3 separate regions of the Homo sapiens genome follow, and all the other regions are linked to region 2. The links come from fine-mapping of genetic effects on gene expression. Tissue or cell type: fibroblasts. Region 2 holds a variant in brackets; each other region holds the start of a gene. All regions are shown on one strand. Distances are from middle to middle.

Evidence for each region. PIP is the estimated chance that this variant, and not a neighbour inherited with it, causes the effect.
Region 1: MRPL36 starts here. The variant in region 2 is fine-mapped to the expression of MRPL36 in fibroblasts (GTEx, PIP above 0.99).
Region 3: IRX2 starts here. The variant in region 2 is fine-mapped to the expression of IRX2 in fibroblasts (GTEx, PIP above 0.99).

The regions. Positions count from the first base shown.
Region 1 is chr5:1,795,108-1,803,194 of GRCh38, forward strand. MRPL36 (mitochondrial ribosomal protein L36) reads right to left here and starts at 4,730. Exons shown (of 2, transcript NM_032479.4): 1 at 4,685-4,730; 2 at 3,278-3,840. The coding sequence starts at 3,828. The coding sequence ends at 3,517. NDUFS6 (NADH:ubiquinone oxidoreductase subunit S6) reads left to right here and starts at 6,300. Exons shown (of 4, transcript NM_004553.6): 1 at 6,300-6,442; 2 at 7,214-7,267. The coding sequence starts at 6,311. RefSeq lists a silencer at 4,200-4,609 and enhancers at 5,690-5,739, 5,800-5,929, 6,109-7,096, 6,540-6,679.
Region 2 is chr5:2,090,614-2,098,700 of GRCh38, forward strand. It overlaps LOC105374618 (a long non-coding RNA gene), which reads left to right. Exons shown (of 13, transcript NR_171679.1): 8 at 5,913-6,029; 9 at 6,626-7,179. Among named protein-coding and RNA genes, the nearest start is that of CTD-2194D22.4, 210 kb to the left of the region's middle. The variant T/C (reference allele first, on the strand shown) is at 3,421.
Region 3 is chr5:2,747,806-2,755,892 of GRCh38, forward strand. It overlaps IRX2 (iroquois homeobox 2), which reads right to left and starts at 3,872. Exons shown (of 4, transcript NM_033267.5): 1 at 3,360-3,872; 2 at 1,577-1,982; 3 at 540-1,247. The coding sequence starts at 3,608. It overlaps IRX2-DT (IRX2 divergent transcript), which reads left to right and starts at 4,088. Exons shown (of 4, transcript NR_122126.2): 1 at 4,088-4,659; 2 at 4,875-4,949; 3 at 5,480-5,550; 4 at 7,224-8,087. RefSeq lists enhancers at 11-956, 957-1,901, 3,987-4,911.

The DNA of each region.
Region 1 (8,087 bases), 300 kb before region 2:
ACAGCAGGTCTCACAGCCATGCCCACTCGCAGGGAGGCAGGGAAGCCCCAGCCCCCACCGGTCCGGCACAGGAAGGAGACCTGGACCCTGGGAGTGCCGGTCTCGCCTCCCACTCTCCTGGGTGAGTGACAGCGACGCTGCCAGGTGGGTGGTCCATCAGTTAGACCTGGTCCGTGAGTAGCCTCCTAGGTGGATACAAACATGACAGCGTCCCACAGAGCACCTCGCCTCCTTCTGGAAATGCATAGACAGCTCCTATGTTCTTCTCTCCATCTGGGCATCATTTACTCTTCCTTCACTTGCACTGCTGTCCCCAGTTGATCTTACTTTAAAAGTCCCTCAGAGAATAACCTAATAACGTACACCTGAATAGCACTTCTAACTTCTCACAGTATTTTCAATCCGTCTTTCAGTTCATTGGCACCACACCTTCAGGAGACAGGGAGGACATTGGCAAGACAGGGCTGGCATCTGGCAGGGCCCCAGGCCACCCGTAGGTCTCGCGAGTGCAGGGACAGCTCCTGACAGGATGACCCTGCCGGCCCACGTGCCCACTCCTCCTCTCTCTGCAGTCGCCTTTCTCTGTGCCCATGAGGACCTGCTCAGCCCACCTTTGGGTGGCTTGGAAGTGCCTGGGATTTAAGTCCCCACACGGTCACCCTCAACCACCAGTGACGAGCATCTGTGGATAAACGCCCCCCCCCCCCCAGTCCTCATCCCCTACAGGACACCAAGGTCCATTCCGCCAGAGCTCAGGGGACACAACAAGGTGGCACCCGGTGTCGCTCTGGTTCTGTGCCCTGGAAGCTCCTCTCCCTCCCTGACTCACATCCCCACTCCCCATCCTGACTTCCGAGATCACCTCCCAGTGGTGCACCTGCATCCCAGCCCTCGTCATGGCAGGCGGCAGCAACCCTGGTTCATTGATGGGGAAACGTGTTGCCCCCCAGGGAGTGCTTGACAGTGTCTGGGGCACTTTTGGTTGGCCCTGCTTGTGTGTGGGGTGCTCCCGACATCTTGTGGTGGAGCCCAGGGATGCTGAACACCCGGCAGTGCCCAGGATGGGCCCGGAGCACAACCCAGCCCCAGATGTCCACAGTGCCGATGCCCAGGATTCCTGGCCTGGTTCTGCAGAATTCTTTTATTAATCACTTATTCTGGACTGAAGCCTGGATAGGTAATTATCAGCCTTAGATTTCTACTCAAGCAAAATTAGCAGAATCCCACCTTTCCCCGTTGGATCAAGCGTGCCATGAAATCCATGCCTTCTTTATTCCTTCCTGTTGGCTCCTGTGCCACGCTGCCTTGCTGGGGATTTGTCTGTGCAATTGTCAAGAGGCCACGACTGTGTGCCCACGTTTGCATGGCACGTAAGCACATCACACCCAACTGCAGGCATGCAGCCGGTGGTCAGGTCTCCCCCCAGAGCACTGCGTACTGCAGAAACACACCCAGTTTTCATCCACGCAGGATGGCTTGGATGCCCCCTGCCCGTGCCCAGCCTCAGGCCCCTCCTCGGGTTGCCTCCCCTGCAACCAAAGTTTCAGCTTGGCCGTCATCCCCTGCAGGGAGCATCCTTGACCTCTTGCCTTGGAGGGCCTGGCATGCTTCACACACAGCACTCACCAGCCTGTTTCACACGCTCCTACGCAGTAAGGGTGTGAGGGCAGCAGCACCTCTTCTCCTCCTCACCCCAGGGCCCAGGCTAAGGGTGCTCGGGAAGCATCAGCAAGCCATGCTGGGGGCTGTCAGGACCCTGTGGTTCTCAAAACCACATCACCCACCCCGTGAGAGATCAGAGACATGGACAGCACACGCTGGCTGAAGGTTGCAGTCTGCTGAGGGTCACTACAGCGGTGCCACTGACCCATCACACCCTCCCACACTGCCTGTTCAGGTAGTGTATGCAGACACACGCGTATATATGTGGACACACTCATGCATGCACACACACGTGCCATATACACACATGCACGCACACACACACGCTTGAGGAAAGTCCTCTCTCTTGCTGAACTATTCTCAGCCCCAGTGCATAACAGGTCTCCTAGTGGGGTCTGGCTTCTGACACTTTCAGGGGCCCCCGTGACAGACACTCTAGTGCATCAACTCCTCACTTAAGAACGGCTCGAGAGAGGGCTTCCCTTTCACTGCACAACAGAAGCAGGCTCTTCGCAGAGCTGGTTCCCTTTTCTTTCAGGTAATAACGCTCTCCACCTTCTTCAACTGGCCAGACGCCTGCGGGCTGCAATGCCCATGTCAAGCTGCTTGCAGAGGCCCTTTGTGAGGGTGAATGGGCACAGCACAGAGTTCACAGCAACACACACCGGCGTCTGCTCCCCCTGGAGAAGTGATGTGGGTGCTGGGGAGGAGCTTTGGCCCTCATGTGGCCATGCTGCCCCCTCTGCCGCCCCACCAGGCCTTTCTGGGTGACCCTGCTGCGCCCCTGCTGCTGATCTGGGCAGGAGGGCGCTCCCCCCGCGCTAGGCTTCTTGCGTGGTCTCCTGTCTCACAAAACTCCTTTCTGGGAGAAGGGGAGGTGTCCCTGGCCAGGAGGAAAGGAGCCGTGAGAAGGCTGTCGCATCTCAGCATCTGCTCTGGGTTGGACTGTGCTCCCCACCCCCAAATTCATGTTGATGACAGTGCTCCCCCAAGGCATGGGGCTCACTCAACTATGAATCCCGATGACCAGGGAAGGACCAGCCCACTCCATCCCTCCAAGTCCTTACCAGTTGTAGGTGTGGTCATCCTCTAGCAAGGGGAGCTCCTTGCCTCCCCCTGAATCTGGGCTCACCCTAGGGACTGAAAGAGTGCGGTAGAAATGACACGCTGGAATTTCTGAGGCTGGGTCATAGGAAGCCTCGTAGCATCTGCTTGGGTCTCTCGGGACACTCTCGGGAAGCTCACTGTGGGGCAGTGCAAGCCACGCTGTGGGCCCTGCCTGAGGAGGTGCTACGTACAGCCTGAGGAGCACTGAGACCCCAGACAGGAGAGCCGGTGCCATCTTGGAAGTGGGTCCTGCAGTTAATGCCACACAGATCAGACAAACTGCTCAGCTGAGCCCATCCCAAATGCCTCACAAAATCGTGAACAATGTAAAATGGCTGATTTAAGCCACCAAGCCTTGGCTTGTACAGCGACGGGTGACCAAAACACCACTTCTTCCAAGAGGCTCTAAGCAGCCTCACGGAGACATAGAGAAGTCCTGCCCAGCCTCACCCAGCACCATCCAATCCCTACCTGCAGCCTGAGTTCAGAGAGAATGAATGAACTAAGCTATTCGGAAGGTCTATTTTAATAGGAAAATGTTTTTTAGTTGGAACGTTTTGGAAATAAGATAACGCAATGTCTTCTATAGTTACTCATTTACACTGAAACGTGATGGGTAACTTTTAGGGCGTTTGCTTCCAGTCACTTTCCCCTGACTCCTTGATGTGATAATTCCTTCCATAAGATACAACCATTCTCCCAAGTGATGCGATGACGAGTATGTGCGTGACTCTGGAGGGAAAGGGTCTACATCTGTCTCTGCTTGTGCCTCGGATGGGTTTTACAGTAGACGTACCACCGACCCCGCCTCTTCACCAGGTAACAGTCCTTGCAGCGCTTCTTAAGGACAGTCTTGTTTTTGAACCCCAGCGCAGGCAGCAGATGGGGCAGGAGGCCGGGTGAGAGAAGTGAGCGCACTGCTGCCCCGGGTTCCACAGCCACGGGGGCTGCACCTCGAATGGATCCAAATAGAAATGTGGAGAGGGCTCGAGGCTTCACCGTGTGACGACTGAGATAGAGCAGAGGGTTCACCATTTTCCTTATAAAAAGATTTGCCATGTTGTGGTGAATCTATGGGAGAGAGAAAAAAAGGAGTTATAGCTTCTCCTGCACTTCCACCTGCTCTTTAAGGCTTCCTTTTCTCTGTTTCACTGAGGCTTGGGAAGGCAGGGACCTCGGGGACTGAGGGTGTTCCCATACCAGCTGCAGCCTCGACCTGAGCTTGAACACTGCCTTAATCAGCCAAGTGTGCCAGGAGAATAAGGGGCAGTGGACGGTGGCTTCCTTCCCTTTCCCGCCTGCTGCAAGTGTAGGTGAGTGTGCAAAGCCCTGCGATGTTGAGGAGCCGCTCACTTGGCTGGGAGGGAGCTTAAACTTAGGCCGCATCCCTTTCCAAACAGACACCAGGTCAAGGACGGTTCAACTGATGAGCTCCTCCCTCCAACTCTTCCCAGACCCAGGGGCCCTCCCTCGGGCCAGTTTCGGGACAGGCCCCCGCTCCGGAAGAGCACGGAACTCTGGCACCCCGGTCGCCCGCCCCTGCTTCCCCACGCGCCCCGGCCCTTAGGGTTCAGCGGCCCCGGCTGGGAAGAGCTGGGCCTGCAGGGCCCGGAGGACACTGCGGCACCGGAGCCGGCCCTGCGCGCGGGCTGTGAGGTCGCGTTCGGGAGCCGCCAGTTCTCCCGCCCCGGGGTCGCTGGACACCCCCTCCTGTCGCCAGGTCGGGCGCCCACGGTCGGACCCGCACCCCCCAACCCTGGCCCTCTGAGACCGCCAGGCCCCGGCCCACGCTCCTCTGACCGCAGCCCACTCGGGGAGACACGCCCGAGGGTCCCAAGGTGGCCGGCCCCACCCTCTCGCAGCCCCCACTCTCAAGACACCCGGGACCCCTGACCTGAGAAGACGGCTCCCTTACCCGGCCGCACGCTCTCACCCGGCGCCGACCCCTGCGTCTGCGCACTGGCACGCGGACGCTGCTGCCAGGAAGGAAGATGGCGGCGGGGGGGGGGGTCACGTGGCGTGCCCACGTCCAGTGCGGGGCGCAGAGACGCAGCAGCGAGTGCGCAGGCGCTGGAGTGCGACGTATCACTCCCCGACTGCGCGCACTCTGCGGGCCACCGGGATCGTCGTGCTGTTTGGAGCGCTCTCGGGAAAAAAAATGCAAAAACCAGGAACGAAAATGGATATCCGCAACGAAAAAGAAATTACAACCACTTAGGCCTTAGAAAAAACTGGCAAATACCAATGTCAAAACAAACTGAGAAAGAGGACATGTTTTTAAGTGGACAGGAGAAATGTAAACAGGCTCCGGGAAACGAGTGGAGACGGGCAGTAGTTTCAACTGGTTACGGCTGTTTTCCCCAACATTATGAAAAACTTCGGACATAGAGAAAAAGGGAAAGAACTGTACGGTGAACACCCATATACTTGCCACCTAGATTCTACCCTTAGCTCGCTTATCCCTGCCTTTTCAGGTATCTACCCGTAACTCCATTCGCCTTCCTTTTTGTGTGTGTCCGGGTGAGTTGCAGACGTGGCTGCGTCCACTCCGCGCTCCCTGCAGGCCCCAACGCTTCATCGCAGCGCCCACTTTTTCCACCTGACCCGGCGAACACCGGGCGGGCCGCTGGAGTTTATCAGCTCCAGGACAAATCTGCCTCTGACCACCACGTTTGCTGGGACATCTTTGGGACCGGAGGTTTTCATGTGCATTCTTGTTTCTCATGCCTTTCCTCCTCTTTATCATCTTCCCCGCCACTCATCCATCTCTAGTGTTTTGTTCTTGGAGTCACGTGGTCCTCAGGCTCTGACCACAGCAAAAGAAAAGCTGGATGCTGGAGCTTAAGCTGGGATTTATACCCAAGTCAACTCTAAGCAAAACGGGCCTTTTTAGAGGCTGTATTTGCATGCTGTAAAATCAGTCGGTGTACTAGGCTTTGTTGCAGAAATCCCCAATATACGTTTCCTCTGCGGCTCCCCGTAACCACACACAGGAACGCTTGCCTTGAACGAGGAGAATGCACTTCCAGTCTCGTCTGCTAAGCAGTTGACTCCTTCACCCAATAATTTTGATATTTAAATGTCTCATGATTATCGGTTACCATAAGAATATAAACAATGTATTTTCAGTTTACATCCTCCCCTGCCTGTCCGCTAAATAAGAACCACTGGGTACTCCTAATCGCTGAAGGTTTCGCACACCATTGCCTGCCTCATCAGGGCCCTAGCTCTAGCCTGCGGCTGCAACTGCATGAGGCTGCACCTGCCGGCGCAACGGGGCCGCTTAACTTTTAGGCCATTGATGAAAAGTCAAACAAGCGCACAGTACTCGGTGTAATCAGGGGCATTTTTAGCGAGATACCTGGGATGAAAACGGGTGACCACCTGAATCAGAGAGCAGCTCCGGCGCACCCTCTGCCCCGACCCGCGCTCCCCGCCCCCAGGGCGAAATAAATACCGGGTGTTTGGCGCCGCCAGAAGCCGTGCGCATGCGTTAGCGCTAAGCGGGACGTTGCGCCGGGTCAAAGGCCAGCGGCGCAAAATGGCGGCGGCGATGACCTTCTGCCGGCTGCTGAACCGGTGTGGCGAGGCGGCGCGGAGCCTGCCCCTGGGCGCCAGGTGTTTCGGGGTGCGGGTCTCGCCGACCGGGGAGAAGGTCACGCACACTGGCCAGGTAACGGCCGCTGGGTACAGGATGCACCTTCCTCCAGCCGCACCTCGGGCGACTGGTGGCAGTGGGCTCGCCGGGCATCCGCGGCCCTGGTTCTGCGCCGGCAGCGCAGGTCGTGGTAAGGTTGTGCTGTCGCTCACGCGCCGGGGAGGACGCCCGCGAGTCGGGACGGTGGTGGCAGCCTGTAGCGGTGGGTCTCGTCCTTCCAGGGCCTGCGGGCTCTGGAACGGGAAGTCTCCCCAGCGGGCAGCACTTGCTGTGGACTGGCTGCCCATAGGCGATTTGTGGCAGCCGATTATTTGGGTCAGAACGTTTAGAATTTGTGTAATATTCAATAATAAATTTTAGTAACCTGAGAAGTCGGTTGTAGTCCAAGGCACAAAAAAGCCCTAAGCCAAAATGAAGAACAAAGGTACCTGTGTATACTGGAATGTGCCCTAGTAGATTTAATGGGGGGATAGTAAAGCTCTCAGGCCATATGCCAAAGAAGGTTGGGGGCGGTTCTCCTCGGTCAGGATTTGTCTCTCCTCCTTAGCTCCACCTTCCCGGGCTATGTCTCTGTGCTGCTCTCTGATCCAGGTGACCACCCGTTTTCATCCCAGGTATCTCGCTAAAAATGCCCCTGATTACACCGAGTACTGTGCACTTGTTTGACTTTTCATCAATGGCCTAAAAGTTAAGAAAAACACTTTCCTGTAATATTTATGATTGATATGAAGTGACTTTCAGAATTAGGCCGTAAAAGTCACACATGGTCTTTTTGTTTTTTTCCAGGTTTATGATGATAAAGACTACAGGAGAATTCGGTTTGTAGGTCGTCAGAAAGAGGTGAGTAAAAAATCTAGTGAAGAGAGGTAAGCTTTCCTAAAACTTTTATGTAACCAACAAGAAATAAAAATTAATATATAAGATTTAAATAAATTTTCCCCATATTGCAAGCACCCTAACAGTTCTGGATGGGGTTCTTCCTTTCTTAAAATCTTAATTGTGTCTATTTCTGACTTGTTTCCCCCTGAAATACATAACATTGTAGCCGTAGTTCTGGTTTGCATATAAATGGAAGTGATCTTTTTTAAAATTCTTGTCCCTTATTCTCCTGAGACTCTCAGATTTAAGTAAATCATATCAACTTTAAAAAAATTATTCTTTTAACCACCTGGAGGTGTGTTTTTTATAGTTTTCACCAAATAAATTAGTGTGTGTTTTTTACAGGGACTTACACTGACAAGCTGAAAATGGCACATGAGTTTTTCTTCCCTTAGTGGGTCTGTTAGCTCTATGCATTGTAAGGGAAGATCAGTTCAGGTGCCTGTGAGTGACCACTGGAGAAAGAATGTTGAAATTAGAATCCTTCTGCCTAAATCAGCCTATTTTTTTTTTTTACCTGACTCCTTCTCTATCACTCATGTCAATGAGCTCCTGAATTCGTAATTAGATCAGGCATGCCTCCATGATTCCTGAATTTGCTTCCTGAAGGATGCTGTGAAGTGTCCTTCACAGCCACCTTATTCATTCTTTTTCCCACTTTGGTTAGCCTGGTGTTCTTCTTGTTAACACCGTAGCTATCCCTAAATCATGTATTTTCCCTTCTCCTTCAATCTTGGTTACGTTATCCATTCCCAGTGTGTAGTTTTTGTACGTCTATTCC
Region 2 (8,087 bases):
CTAAAATCCATAAAGCATCACCAAGAGAAATTAAGGAACATCTAAACAAATGGAGAGATATATCATGTTCTTGGGATTAAAAATTCAGTATTGTTTTAATTTCTTCCCAAATTTACATATTCAATGTTATCTCAATGAGTACTAGCAAGCTTTTATTTTTGTAGAAATTGATGAACTTATTCTAAAATTAATTTGAAATTGCAAAGGGCTTTTAATTGTGGAAACAACTTTGAAAGCAGAGAATAAAGCTGAAGGATGAACACTAGTTTAAGACTTAAAACTACAATAATCAAGAAAGTGTGATATTGGCATCAAGCTAGACAACTAGATAAATGGAATGGAATAGAGAGTCCAGAAAATGACAACAGCCTATAGAGATAACTGATTTCTAAAAGGAATGCAAAGGCATTTTAGCAGAGAAAAGGCAGCCTTTTAAAGAAATGGCGCTACAACAATTAAATAGCCACATGCAAAGAATATACTTTGATCCATACATCTCACAGAAATAGATTATTGCCTTATATGTAAAGGCTAAAACCATAACATTTTTGGAAGGAATTAGGAGAAATTCTTCGTGACCTTGAGTTAGGCAACGATTTCTTAAATATGACAAGAAAGGCATGGTCTATAAAAGCAAATATGATAAATATGACTTCATAAAAATTAAAACACTTACTCTTTGAAAAACACAGCTAGTATAATGAAAAGACAAGCCATTGGCTGGAAGAAAATATTTGCTTCTCTTATACAGCAAAGGACTTTTAACCAGATTAGCTAGATAACTGTTAAAACTCTATAAAATGAAAAGAGACAGTGATTAAAAATGATCTATTGGTTTGAATGGACACTTCACCATAGAAAATGTGTGAATGGAAAATAAGTCCATGATAAGATGATCAATACCGTTAGCTCTTAGAGAAATGCAAGTTAAAACCTCAATGAGACATGATTGCACAGTTATTAGATGGCTAAGATTAAAAAGACTAATGACGCCAGGTGCTGGTGAGGCTGTATAGGAACTGGAATGCTCACATGTCACTGGTTAAAATATTAAATGTTACAACCGCTTTGGAAAAGTTTTATATTTTTTTTAGTTTTGTATTTTCCATTTTTATTTAAAATCTCCTAATATTATTTTTTGAGCCTATTAATGGTATAGGGGTTTATTGCAAAATTATATAAACATTTTCAAACAAAAGGTAAGTAAGTATGGATTATACAATAAATGACAAAACACTACTGTGTAATACTTAATATGTGGGTGTTAGACAAAGTGTTAGACTTCATAGAATTTCTAAGGCAGCTTTGTTCTGCCTGCCTTTTCTACACACATTTCACACATATTTAACATGAGTTTTCCTTTTTCCCACTGACCTTCTCACCTGGCAGCTTGCTTCTGAGTCTTTCACACAAGCCACACACAGCTGCTTGGTTGAGCACTTAAGTGGCCATCAGGCAGCAGTGTCCCTAGATGTTCCTGCTCCAAAGCACGTTTTTAAAGTGAGTAGCTGCATTCTGTCCTTGAAAGAAAAGTGTGAATAACATCACATCAGAAAGGACTGGAGAAGGAGAAGCAAATCTTAGCGGGTGTTAAATGGCTTCCAGTGTTCCTGGCAGACTGAGATGAGACCGCAGCAGAAACCAGAGGCACGAAGCCCACCTCAGCCTATTGTGAAGAATCTTTTAATATAATACTCTATACTTGTTGGTCAAAATCTTGTATTGGGTACTTTTGTTGAATTTTCAATTATATTATCTTTTGTTTCCTGTAAACTAGGTCAAATTTTCCTGAAGGTCTGATATAGTATATTTCCTTTTTAAATCATATATAATGTGTAATAATATTTTAATACATGAAACAGTCAAATGAAGACAGTTTTTACTATTTAATACATGAGACAATCAGTCAAAGGAAGACTTTTTTACTATTGATCTAAATGCTTGATCATACTGTAATTAAAAAGTGAAATAGCTGAATTTATTGATCTAAGAGCATTTATGGATCTTCAAAAGTATTCACTACGTTAGTAATAGATGCAAATAATGGATATTATGGCACAATGACTAGTCTAAGAGAGGCGACGTGTTGTCATTAATTTTTTTTCATTCAAATCTATTTATTTTTATTTTTAAAATTGTAGTAAAAATCACACAACATAAAATTTACCATCGAACCTATTTTAATTGCATAGTTCGGTGACATTAAGTGTATTCACAGTTATGAATATACTGCAAATAGTTTTTTTTTCAAAAGTTAAACACATAACTACCATCTGACATGGCAATTCCATCCCTATGTACTTCCCAGGAGAAATGAAAACATGTGTGTTTATAAAGACTTGAACACAAATGTCCATGGAAGCTTTACCTGTAATTGCTAACAACCAGAAATGACCCAAATGTTAATCAACAAGTGAATGGATAAAAACTAATACATCCATTCAGGGGAGTAATACTTAGTGATATAAAGGTTAAAAAAAACCCGTTGAGACATACAACATGGACAAATCTCAAAATAATTATGCTGAGCCAAAAAGCCAGACAAAGAATAATACATAATTATGATCTTATTTTATAAAATTACAGAGAATGCAAATGAATCTCTAGAGACAGAGGTTAATCAGTGATTGCCTAGGGAGGGTGGGGGAGAGGGGAGGAGTAAGAAGGAACAATTTCAAAACATTATCACAAAGCAAATTCCCAAGGAGATGGATAATATCCTGATTTTGATAGATTCAGTGTTTTCTATGGGTTTTTACATCTTTAAAAATCTATCCAATTTTATATTTTAAATGTGTATAATGTATATATCAATTGTATAATTCTTATATAAATTCAGCCTCAATAAGGCTGTTAAAAAATAGAAGCAACGTGAAGACTGTCTCAGACATACAAAAGTAGAGAGACGCCACTGTCAGCAGCCGGCACCACCAGGCACTAAAGGACATTTTAGAGTTGGTTTCCAGACAGAGGGAAATGATAAGAAATAAAAATGAGGGTCTACACAAAGGAACAGGAGTGGGTGTAAAATGCATCAGCAAATACAAAGCGTGTTTTACCGTATTTTGAAATCTCTTTATTGAACATTGTTTTAAACAGTAATAATAATACATTTGGGGTTTATAAGTAGAAGCAAAATGTCTGCTAACAATAGCACAAGGGCTGGGAGGTGGGAAATGGAACCAGGCAGTTGTAAGATTATTAAATTACATGGGAAGTGATGCCATATTATTTGTTATTCTTGGGTATTCTTGATAAGTTAATGCTGTGTATTGTCAACTCCAGAGCAACCATTTATAAAAACAAACATGATTCATACACCACTTACAAAGCTAACAAAAATGTAATATAAACCCATGCACACTGTGTTCCAGCAGAACTTCAAAACAATTCTTAAATGATGACTTGGTGGGAATTAGT[T/C]ACTAGAATTTTCCTTCATGGCCTTGCAGACCGAGGACTTCCGCCAGCTTTCGCATGGGAGAGCGTCCTGGCACGGGGTGTCTTTGACGTGGGCAGACTGAGGACTTCAGCCAGCTTTCAAATGGGAGAGCGTCCTGGCACGGGGTGTCGTTGACGTGGGCAGACCGAGGACTTCAGCCAGCTTTCACATGGGAGAGCGTCCTGGCACGGGGCGTCGTTGATGTGGGCCATGAGTTTGCACCTTTTCAGATGGTGGGAAGCCACTCACAAGTGACAGAGGGTGTCACATGATACACAAAACCGAAAGGAAGCCCTAATCCCGGCAGGAAAGGTCTGTGTGAGGATTCACCAAGAGTGGACGTCCAGGAGTGTGTGACGCCGGAGCCGGTGTGCCCCACGCATGTGTAGGTGCTCACAGGCACACGCCTGCACGGAGGGCTGTCTGTCCAGGCCACTGCTGTGTGGTGGCCTCACTGCTGCCTTCCTTAATGGCTGATAACACTAAACTCTTTGATGTATCCAATTCCCTGCTTTATTTTAACTCAGATTATTCCTTACTGTGCCTTTGGCCATCAAATATTGACTGCATGATAACATTGTACTTTGTTTCTGTTGTCAGTGCATGACGTTTTCCACTCTCTAGGGAGTTCCACTGCCAAGAGAACACAACTCATCACCAGAGGAGACAGGATCGGGGAGGAGGCGGCCAGGCCAGCCCTGGCCCCGGCCACAGGAACACTGGCGTCCCCTGGCTGGGAAAGGACAAGGTGTGCTCCAGTTCTGGCCACGTCTGTCTGGTTTCCCCATCAGAGGTGGTGGCTTGTGAACTAGGAGCGCTCGAGTCCCAGCGCCGTGGCCCAGTCACCAGACGGTGGGTGGGGAGCCGGGCTGGGCCCTCGCCCTGGCCACAGTGCAGCCCGCTCCACTAGCTGGGACCCGGCTTCCTGCAAAACCAAAGCTCAAGGCTGGGCAGGGCAGCCAGCTGTGTCCCAACTCACCCCAAGTTTCTGCACTTCATGTCCGAGCAGATGGGCTTTCAGAGGGGACGCTGCCCTAGGGTTTCACAGCCACTTATGCTGAGTGATGCCCAAACCTGTAACTCCCAGTCACTGATCCTAGGATCCTTGAACCACAGGATGCTGACCTCATTTCCCCACCCATTGGTGGATGCGTTCATCAGAGTCTTCCAGAAACCGCGGTGGGGGGATCGCCCAGGATCGCACTCAGGAATCCCGCCGAGGGAGCTCTGTGAATGCAATTTAGGCGACCGCACTTTCTAATGTTTGAAATATTGCGTCTAAGGAGACATTTCTCTAAATGTCACAGGAGACACATGCATGTTTAAGAAATGTACATGAAAGAACATACTTGAGTATATGCCAAGTATGATGACCTAGCTATGATAATTTTCAAAAATGTAGCAATCGTATTGTCAGAAACTATTATTTTAGAGGTTAGAATGTTGACCACCCATTTGTTTTTAAATTATTATTATACTTTAAGTTTTAGGGTACATGTGCACAATGTGCAGGTTTGTTACATATGTATACATGTGCCATGTTGGTGTGCTGCACCCACTAACTCGTCATCTAGCATTACGTATATCTCCTAATGCTATCCCTCCCCCCTCCCCCCACCCCACAACAGTCCCCGGAGTGTGATGTTCCCCTTCCTGTGTCCATGTGTTCTCATTGTTCAATTCCCACCTATGAGTGAGAACATGTGGTGTTTGATTTTCTGTCCTTACGATAGTTTGCTGAGAATGGTGGTTTCCAGCTTCATCCATGTCCCTACAAAGGACATGAACTCATCCTTTTTTATGGCTGCATAGTATTCCATGGTGTATATGTGCCACATTTTCTTAATCCAGTCTATCGTTGTTGGACATTTAGGTTGGTTCCAAGTCTTTGCTATTGTGAATAGTGCCACAATAAACATACGTGTGCATGTGTCTTTATAGCAGCATGATTTATAGTCCTTTGGGTATATACCCAGTAATGGGATGGCTGGGTCAAATGGTATTTCTAGTTCTAGATCCCTGAGGAATCACCACACTGACTTCCACAATGGTTGAACTAGTTTACATGGCACCCAACTACTACTCGACATTCGTAACCTTTTATTCATTAGAAATGACCAACGGGAACTTTAAATTACATGACAGCAGTTTCCTTCTTAGAAAGAGGAAGGTAAAACTCAGAGAAACCTATCAAGCCTGAATAAAGGAGTAAACACAAAAATGAAGCAGTTCCAACTCTTCTATGGGGCTCCCTACCTGTGGTCCTTCATCCTCATAATATTATTTTCTGAATGGCCTCTGACAGCCACGATTTCCCCAAATGATCAATGTCGTCAAACTATTCAGCATGGCAGATCAGGAAAATTGTCAGATTTATTTTAGAAAGAATTTTAAAGGACAGGTGGACTCTAAAGGGATGTTGTGCTTAGCTAGATATTCAAAAATGCAATTAACGAACACATTCCTTCTCCAGATACACCGAGTTTTCCTGTGTGTTCAGGTGTTTGTTCCGAGGGTGCGTTAGTGGACGAATTCCTCCACCTGTGCATCTGGAGACCTGGGGATGTCTATGCTCTTTGCCCCCTGCCAGGTAAAAGAGTAAACTTCTAATAATCAGCTCAGATTCCCTTTTGTTGGGTTAGGAGATGAAAATACGTTGTACTGGATTCTCTTTGAAATCTAAAATGTCCGTTGGTTTTGGAGTTTTCTAACAGAACCGCCCTTCAGGTAAACATCCAAAACCTTCCTGTGACCCCGTGCAGAAGCGCCTCCCACAGCCCCCAGAGGAGAGAGGTAACCTCGGCAGATGCTGAGACCAGGGAGCCACCTCTCTTGGGCTGTGCTGGAAGCATCTCTGAGCTCTGCTCAGGTGGGAGTTACTGACACGCATATCCGTGCGAGGGCTGGCGTTTCCTTCTTTCATCAAACTGCCCATCCCCTCTGCAGCCAGTGCAGGAGTCGCGGAGTGCCGCCTTGGCTCTGGCCGCCTGAAGGCCTGCCGTGCTGGAGAGCGGGTCCAGGGGTTGACATCTCTATTCTTTTGTCTGACAAATCTGTGCACTGGCTTGTAAAAAAAATCAATACTGTTTTTCCTTGGTTCTCTCTCCACAGGTGAGCTGGTGGATCGTAGCGGCTCTCCCCGTTCCCGCCTCCAATTCTGTTCTCAGTTTGTTTCTCTTGCTTCAGGGTTGAGCATGTGATCATATCTCCAGCGGACGACACCAAAAGAATGTCTGTGACCTCGTCCCCTGGCGACCACGTCTACAGTGACTGAGTGCTGCCGTGGCTGGAAAGCCAGGGTCTGCATCTCCCAGGACCTCAGGACCTGTGATGAGGTGTTGTGGGGCCAAGAAGAGGAGGGGGTCCATGGTGGGCTCTGCCGCAGGTGACCCTGCGCACTGTCCTAGCACCTGTGCCTAAGGAGATGCCCTCTATGGTACCAAGCATCTCCCAAAATGTGATTTGCTCTTCCTGTGATAGAATGGAGTGGGCTGAGGGGGCGATGGGTGCTGGAAAGCCACAAGGCTGCCATTGATCTGCCAGAGAAGGCACCTGCTCACCTGGCAGGATGCTCACCTGGCAGGATGTTCACCTGGCAGGATGCTCACCTGGCAGGAATAGCAAATTTGCTAGAAAAATGCAGGTTCCCCTGTTCTGGGTGATCTGTGACTTCTGCCACACAGGGGATCCAGAGTGCGAGGATATCCAGAGAGCTGGAATGAGGATTTTGCTGAGCTGAGGTGGGTTGCTTTCCTCTCCTTCCCTCATGAAATCACAAAACCCATGCTCATCTCCCAGATGACCTAAGGGTGGCAGTTCCTAGAGGCAGGCGATAAATGAGGCACAGTGACCTCACGTCCAGCCTAGTTTCCTGTGTTCATTCCTGAAGGGACCTGAGTGTGGGAACAGAGTGCTCTCCTCTCTCTCTTTCTCTCTCATTCTCTCATTCCTTCTTTCTCTTTCTCTCTCTCTTTCCCTTTCTCTCTCTCTCCTCTTATTCTCCCTCTTTCTCTCTCTCTTCCCCCAGCCCCCACGTTTGTCCTTCTCCTTCCTTGCAGTCTTGCTCTTTTTCATCCATATTCCCTTTTACTATAAACTTGCTCATCTTCACTGAGGTTTAACCATGACCCAAGTTCTAGATCTTATGGGCTATTTATTATGAAGACCTAGGACTTCCTGTTTGCAGGTGAACACAGAAAGGCTTAGGATTCTTAGTAGAGAGCCTAAGCAGTCCAGATGGGAGACGTGCATTTAAGGAGAGAGATCTGATGGCCGCTCGCTGGGGATGACGCCCTTTTTGGTCCATGATCAGCCCCTGGTGCCAGGTGAGGGGACCAGGCATCGAGCTGGTCTTCAGGCCTCAGGGCTCAGCTGCCACAGAGGAGGACCCATGAGGACCTCACACCCCTGAGGCCTCCCTGAGTTCTGCTCTCCGCAGGCCTGGCCTGCATCATTTCCAGCAATTTCCACAAGTGCTTCCTTTTTAAAAGCAGAGTCTTCAAGATTGACCTTGTATAGTATTCATTTATTTAAAAAACCCAGCTTCTGCTGTGGTGCTCACTGAGCGATTGGAGCAGTGCTGAGCACGGCTTCCTTGGGTGGGCCTCGACGGACACCCACCCCTCTAACTGCTTAATATCACGAATGT
Region 3 (8,087 bases), 660 kb after region 2:
TTCGGGTAGCCTGACTTAGGAGCAACACAGGCAACATAGCACAGGGGAAAAAACGGTTTTCTTTCCGAACAACGACAACAACAAAAAGCGGAAAAAACATTTGATTTTATCTTTTGAAGACAAAACGCCTCTGAGAGTAACTGGAACGTTCTGTTTGCCTCTAGCCAACGGCAGAAAAGCGGATTCAACTCTGACTCCTTAACAAGACACCGAAACACACCCAGGCTCATTAGGGCGACACGCTGTAATTTGAATTTCGTGGCAATCTGGGTTTGCCGAAACTAAGACAGCCACGATAGTAATAGTCAAAATAACAGTAAATTAAGTAAAAATAAATAATAACAGGGCAAGTCTAAAAAGAGGGCCACACCTTCTTTGGCTTCCATCTCGCCCTCCGCCCTCACTCTGCTAATTCTGGGTCCCAGGAGTGGCCCCCTGGATCTTCTTCCCGGACCCTCCCTCGGGTCTCCCGGGCGCTCCGCCTCCCCGGGGCTGGCTCTCCCTCCCCTCCCGGGCGCCGCCGGCCGCGGGCCGCCTACCTTTCTTGGGCTCGTAGCCGCCGCCCGGGGACCGGTAGTGGGACTCGAGCGGGTGCGCGCCCGCCTTGCCCGCGTCGCTGGCCGCCTTTGGCGCGGTGTGCAGGGCCTCGCCGGGGGCCGCGGCCGCAGAGTTGTACCGCAGGAGACCCTGGCCCTGCAGCGCCGCGTTCAAGTTCCCGTAGTTTGTGTAGTTGCCGTAGAAGGGCGACGTGTAGTAGAGGGGGCGGCCCAGCAGCGGCGAGGCAGGGTAGGGCGAGCCTCCTGGCGGTGCCCCGGTTGAGGCCGGCGCGGCGGCCGCGGGCAGCCCCGGTGGCCCGCAGCCCGGGCCCAGGCTCGGCTGCTTGAGGTCCGACGTGGCGATCTCGGCCAGCGACCACAGCTTGGGCTTGCTGGCGGGGGGCGGCGCGCCCGGAGACGTCCGGCTGCCCTGGGGCGTCTTGCGGCCACCGCGGGGCGCGGCCTCGGGCGGGGGGCTCAGCAGCGGCGCCTCCAAGCCGGTAAGCGGCGACGAGGTCACGGGCTTGGGCGGCGCCAGGCCCCGCTCGCCCTCCTCGTCGTCGTCCTCGTCGTCCTCCAGGTCGTCATACTTGTCCTTGCACTCCGAGCCCGATTCGCACAGGGGGTCCCCGGCGCGGCACGGAAGCTTCTCCCCGTCCGACTCGGCCGAGCACGAGTGATCCGTGAGCGAGTCCACGTGCAGGCTGATCCCTGTGGGGGCGCGGGCACGGTGGGTGGCACGAGGGGACAGCGCAGGCACCTGGAGCCCCCTCCGCCCCCTGTCCTGCGGCACTGGGCCCTCCCCACGGGACCCCTCACCTCGCCCCCACCCGGCCACGTGACAGGCGGAGCCTGACCTCCCCGGGAAGGGCCCGAGGAATCGCTCGCTCAAATCCCGGCGACCCCAGGGCAATGTGGTGCGGCTGGGGCTCCGGCCCGGACCTGGGGTGTCCGGCGGGCAACGTCCTCCCCGCCTTAGCTCTGCGCCCCGCCTGGGAAGAAAGCGCCCCGAGACCTTGCGCCGGCCGCTGCCCGCTCACCTTCGTCCTCTGCCGAGGTCTCCGTGCCCTCCTGCGCCTTGTCGGGACTCTCGTCCTTGCTTCTGGTAGCGTCGCCCTCGTCCTCGTCCTCATCTTCGCTTTTGTTTCTCGGGGCCCAGGTCATCTTGTTCTCCTTCTTGAGGCGCCGGCGCGCGTTGGCGAACCAGGTGGAGACCTGGGTGAGGGTCATCTTGGTGATGATGGCTAGCATGATCTTCTCGCCCTTGGTGGGGTAGGGGTTCTTGCGGTGCTCGTTGAGCCAGGCCTTGAGAGTGGCCGTGGCGTCCCGCGTGGCGTTCTTGCGGTACGCGGGGTCGTTGAGCTGGTACGGGTAGGCCGCGCTGCCGTACGGGTGGTAGCTGATGGCGCCGGTCATGCCGGTGGTGTGCGCGTCGTAGGGTGCGCCCTGGAACCAACAAGAGCCTGTGAGTGGAGTATGCGGAGACCCCGCGGGCAACCAGCCAGAGGATGCCACCCCTCCGCCCGCCCACGGCCACCGTTCCCCCCGTGAGTCTGGCTCTGGGGCTGCGCTTCCCGCCGCAAAAGAGCAGGAAAAACGCAGTGTGATTCGGGACCAGCTGTTGATCACAAAAAGTACCGGAGTTTTATTCTCGAATTTCTGAACTATTTCACTTTCCTAAAATGACCCATCTTCCCCTAAGTGTTCCGGAGCCGCTCGTGGCAATGTACACAAACCCTTGCACGTGCGCGCACACAGGCCCACAGGTAGCTCTTTGATATCTAAATTTCTGCAGATGCTTGGAGTGCGGCTGCCTCCCCCTACTCCCTCTTCCCCTCCCTTATATGGTTAAAAAAACACCCCAGAGCCCCCAATTCACTATTCACTGCTCTAAAGCTGGGCAAATCCAATTTGCAACTCAGAAGCCAGTCACCGTTTCGAATTCTTCAAATACGCCGTAATTAGCATTTTAATTCATCCTTTAACGTTTAAATTCGAGGCATTTGCAGCCTTCGCCAAGGCCCCAGCGACTCGGTCGCTGCCCAGAAATTCCGCCGAGGGCCGGCAGTCGCGACAACCCCGTAATGGCCTCAATCGCCCGTAACGTGCTTCGCCGCGGCCCGGGCCTGGCCCAGCTCAGTAACCTCGAGACTCGCGAGCCGCCCCCAGGTCGCCGGAGCAGGAGCTGCGCTCGGGCCACGGAGGACTCAGGCGGCCCTTAGCGGGTCACGCGCCCGCAAGCACGATATTTGAAAGCATGGTCCGCTGGACAGAGTAAGGCCGAAACCTGGGCGCCTCGGGCCGGACTCCGGAGCCGCAGCTGAATGCTCGGCTCCTGGGCCTAACTCGGTGACCCCCACCGCCCTGAGCCCCGCGAGTGAATGCGAACCGCCCGGCCGTCGGCTCAGAGGCCGCAGTGACGCGGACCCTCGCGCCCCACGCCAATGCAGGCGAGCACACAGCCCGCTCCGAACGCCTCCCCAGGCTGCGGTGCGGAAACCAGGGACAAACGGCGCCAGACCCCGGCCCCGGCGGAGACGCACTTCCCAGGCTCTCAGAGAAAATCAGCCGGCGAGCCGAGGGGACGCGCGGGGGGCGCGCGGGTCCCGGCCGGGCTCAGGGACGTCCCCGCCTGCCGCGCTGCCCTCCCCACCCGGGGCCCGGCTCAGCCTGCGGGGCGGCCAACCGAGCCGGCGACTCCTGAGTCGCCAGCCGCGCCACATTCCCGGCGGCCCCCGCCCGCCGAACCCGAGCCCCGCTCCGCCTGAGCCCCGTCTGGGTCCCGGCGCCCAGGAGTCCCGCGTCCCGCCCGCGCCCGGTTACCATGTAGGACGGGAAGCCGGCGGCGGCGGCGGCGGCGTCGGCCGAGTACTGCAGCGGGCTCCCGAAGCCGGTGGCCGCCTGCGCCGTGAAGGCCGCCGAGCCCGGGTAGGGGCTGAACGCCGAGCCCGACGCCGAGCGCGCCAGCTCCTCGCTGCGCGGAGCCGCCAAAGCCGACGCGCCGTAGGCCGGGCACGAGTAGAGCGCCAGCGAGCCGGGCGCCTGGTACAGGTAGCCCTGCGGGTAGGACATGGTGGGCGCGGGGCGCGGGGCCCGCGTCACGCCGAGCAGCGGGCAGGGCGCGCGGCGCCCTCCATCCACGCCCGGCCGGGGCGCGGCGCGGCGGCGGGCACCCGGACGGCCGGCGGAGGCAGGCCGGCCCGGGTACTAGCCTGGGCGGCCCGCGGGCCGGGGCGGCGGCGGGGTGGCGGTGGCGGCGGCAGCAGCGCGGAGCCGGTGGGCGCAGCCGCGCGCCAGGCCGGCGGTCGGGGTTTGGGGGAGTCTGGAGTCGGGAGTGAGGAGTTGAGGAAGGAGCGCTCGAGTTTCCGAGGGACATTGGAACGCGCAGCTGTCCATCACGCGCTCATCTGCATATTCGGGGGCCCGCCCCTCCCCTGCTCCGCCCGCTGCAGCCTCCGGGCCGCGGCCGGGGGAGGGGCAGAGAGACGGGAGGGAGGCGGGGGAGGGCGGAGGCGACGGAGGCGGGCGGCGGGAGGGACCGGCAGGCTTTTGTGGCGCAGCCGCCTCTCTAGCAGCTCCGGCCCCAGCCCGCGGCTCGCGGACCTGCAGCCCAGCCCGGCCGCGCTGCGTGCCCCGGCGCGCACCCCTCCCACTCCCATCCACTCGGAGCCACGTCCCCTGCCCGGCTCCGGCCGGCTCCCACCGTCCCCGGCCACCGTCTTCGCCCCTGCCCGGCCCCCGCCCCTTCCAGCCACTACCCCGCCCCCACCCCCTTCTCCACCCTCACGGACTAGGCAGAGGCCGCCCGCGGTCAGGCCAGGCCGGGTCCAATTAGGGGACTCACAGCCTGCCCCGCTGTGCACCCCGAGGAGGCCCGGCCCCTGTGTCCAATCCGGAAGTCGCAGGGAAGTGGGGAGGTCAGGATGGTGGCGCCCGCGGCTCGGGTCTTCCTCCGGGCAGTGCGCGCGGCTCTCACTTCCACGGTCCCGGACCTGCTCTGCCTCCTGGCCCGAGGCTCCCCGCGTGGCCTCGCGTCTGGTCGCCTACCCCTCGCGGTCCACTCCGCCCAGCATGGACCTGGATCCGGGGCGCCTTGGTTGCGAATTGCCAGGAGGGCCCTGAGGTGAGCTTTCTGCCCCCAAATCCGCAGCGCAACCCCCGGGGCCCTGAACGTTACGACTTTCCACTGTTGGGAATGACGCCAGGGCTTCAGCTAAGAAGACGCCGTCCCCTAAAGAGTTTTATTTTATTTTGTTTTTCTAAGTTGACTCCTCTTTCAGATTTGTGTTGTCAAAACACTGGGGGGATGATTGTTACCTGACAAACCGCCTCTGGCAGGACCTGAAGCCTCCCAGTCACGTCGAGAACGGGCAGGAGCTCAGGTTGGCGCCGCCGGTGCAGTGGGCATTACAGGTAGCTCAGGTGACGCGCGGCTGGAGTAGGGGGGCGGTTGCCTTGCGGGGCTCAGAAGCGAGGCGGTTGGCGAGGGTTCCTAGGACCCCAGCTTCCTAGAACCCTCTCCCCATCACGCTTCTCCAACCCTTTTCCACTCGGGGATGGCCGAAGAGGGCGTCTGGCTGCCCACTCCGAAGGGTCACCTATGGGGGGCGCTCAGGGGGATGGAAGAGTGTCAGGTCTGTGCTGGCCTATTGGGAGCACCCACCCAGCAGGTGCCTCTATCCTCGGAAGCCGTCTCGGGTGGGTGCGGTGGAGAAGAGAGAGCGCAGTGGCCTGGGGCGGGCCTCAGCTCAGGCCTGCAGCCGACTCCTGCACCCCTGCTGGCCCTGCAGCCTGCGGAGCAGCCTTAGTGATCTCAGGACGCAGGGCATGTTGCGGCCTCCCTGTGGTGCGGCTGCAGCGGCGCGGAGGGAGCGGAGCCCGGGTTGCCAGTCTGGTCCAGGGCGCAAGAGAAACACTCACGGCATCAGGCTGTCTTTCCCCAGGTGCAAGGGAACCAGTTGCAAACTGCAGTGCTGTGCTTGAGGATGGCTCCTCCTGAGCCGGCAGGCTCCCGGTAGGCGCGGTCCAGGCACGTTACCCCTCCCGCCAGGAGCTCCCGAGCCGAGCCACTCGCCCCCTACCAGTTATCCCACCCACCCCTTCGCCCACACTGCTCCCCCACCACTCTTCCTACAAACCACACCCCCATCCTGCACACATCCTCTTCAGGCCATCTCAACACACGCACACGCACACACACCCACGACCACCTCTCCCTCCACCCACAGACACCCCGTTCCCACAGGCTGGGCCCCCTGCAACGACCCAGCGGGGGGTTTCAACCTTGTTGCGACTCCACATGGGACATCCTAATTCAGTCCAGGACAGATATTTTTAATCAATTACTATAGAGCTGAAAAACAGAGAGAGAGAGAAAGCAGCCGGGTTGGGCAAGCCGTCGACAGTCTGCGACATTTTTGCGCTTCCTGGGAGGGAATTCCTCCAAGAAGAGGGGTAAATGAGAGGCCCACACGCTGGATGGCAAACACAAACACTGTCAGATCAGATGGCAACCTTTAGGGTTCCTTTACGATCAGATCAGTTTAAATGAAAAAAAAATCGGGTGTAATTTTTATCACCAGGGAGCACTGGCCTGGAGTATTTCCATTTCTAAAGAGCGGTTCCCGCTGTGGTTTCATTAGCATTTGGGGCTCATCCTCCCTCCCCCTCCCTTGACCCACCCCCCTCCCCCCGCCGGACCTCTGCCAGGGGCAGAAGAGAAAACAGCCAGTTATTATACAAACATCCTCAGTTTGGAGCTGGAGTGTCTGCTCTGGATACAGTCGATTCTGACATCAATTAAATATATAACCAGACACGTGCAGTGGCGGGGAGGGTCCCCTCACCCAGGGTGCATCTCCAGAAACGCCGCCTGCCCTTCCCCCTCTTTAGCTCAGTGTTGGGAGTTTGAAGATGGCCTCTTCCCGTCCTGTGTGTATTTTCCCCTTAGCAATTATACTCCTCCACTGAAATCTATATGTTCCATACCGCTGCTGCCTGTTACTAATAAAAACCGTCTACCTTGCACTATTAAACAGTCGACTCTTACTACATGCCGTTTTTATTGGTAGTGACTGTAGCAAATTAAAATGCCTACGCAGGGACATTAAAAACTTAACACTCGTCATTGTTATTGAAATATATAAACTACGTTTTGCTTTAAAGCTCTCTGATATTAAAGAAAAAAATCACATTCCTTCTTCTTAAGTTAAAGTTGGCTTGGTCTTCTTCTTAAAAAAAAAAAAAATCAATCATGAGAAAACATGCTGCCAGCGTGGAGTCTTGGCGCGGCGGTCCCGGCGAGGCTGCCTGAGAGGGTGGCGGGCTCAGCCCAGACTCCGTCTCGGGGCCACGAGGGCTGCAAGGCCGCGGCTCCCGAAGAGGAGGGCCTGGGATGTTTTGCTCAAGGGCGAGGCGGGGTGCTCAGGCCTGTGGGGTCGCTGGGGAGAGCCCGGCACTTGGCTTCTGAGGCTTTTCAGTTGCCGTCCGAGCAGGAGGGAGGGAATGAGCAGGCACGCAGGGAAAACCCAGTAACTGCTTTGCAAACGCGACCCCTGGTCACAATAACCCAGGCGATGGGGGCAGTTTCAGGTTCCTGGTGGGCCCTGCCCCCTTTCCTAGGTGTGCCCTAGGAGGTGGGGAAAAAATTAACACTGTTTCTATTTTTCTTTATTGTCCCTGCAACAGCCAAAGAATTTAGAACGAGTCTACGTGGACACGCAAGTTTCAGCGAGCGGGGATTTCCTGCGAGGCCGAGCGCGAGGAACAGCCGGCCCCGGAGGCTCGGGCTCGGGGTCTCCCCGGGGACGCGGCCGACTGAGAAGGCCGGGGCGCTCGCCGGGCGCGGCGCCGTCCTCCGTGTCGCGGGGACGGAAGGAGGCGACGCAGGCCAGGAGTCGTGCGCGCGGGCGGCGAGGGGGCGCTGTGGCCCGTGTCTGCCGGCCCGAGTCCCGGCAACGGTGGGCGCGACCCACCTCCTCCCCCGGCGGCTTAATTCGGGGAAGAAGAAAAAACGGCATCGAGGCATTTCAATAAAACCTAAGCGACTCCTGATCCTTTCTCATTGTGGTTCCTTATGAGCTTTCGGTGTCTGGCGGGGAAACAGTTACCGTTCGGGGGTGTGGCAAACTTTTTTGGCAATTAAGATGAAACAGACGCTTTTATGTGGGTTTCCTTTAATGAAGTAACATTGGAAATGTAAGTAGTTTCAGTGCATCAAATCACATCGCTACCGTATTCGCGGTCACCGGCCCTCCCGTTCCAGGGCTCCCCGCGTTTGTCGAGGGAGAGAGCGAGGCAGGAACAGGGGGCCGGGGACATGAGAAGTTTGGCTAAGAAATTTTTCTTTTCTTTGAAAACAAAAGCGTTGTTATAAATGGAACAAAATTTAAGTCAACATGGAACCCACATCTCTTTCAAACGTCGTTTCTAGGTCTAGTACTCTGTGAGTAGGTTGGACTGGATTTCACGCTCAACCGGCATTTCTAGGCTCTCAAAGACGCTTCCGAGGCCTAAATGTTTTCCTGGAAAACACGTGCAGAGGAGCATCCG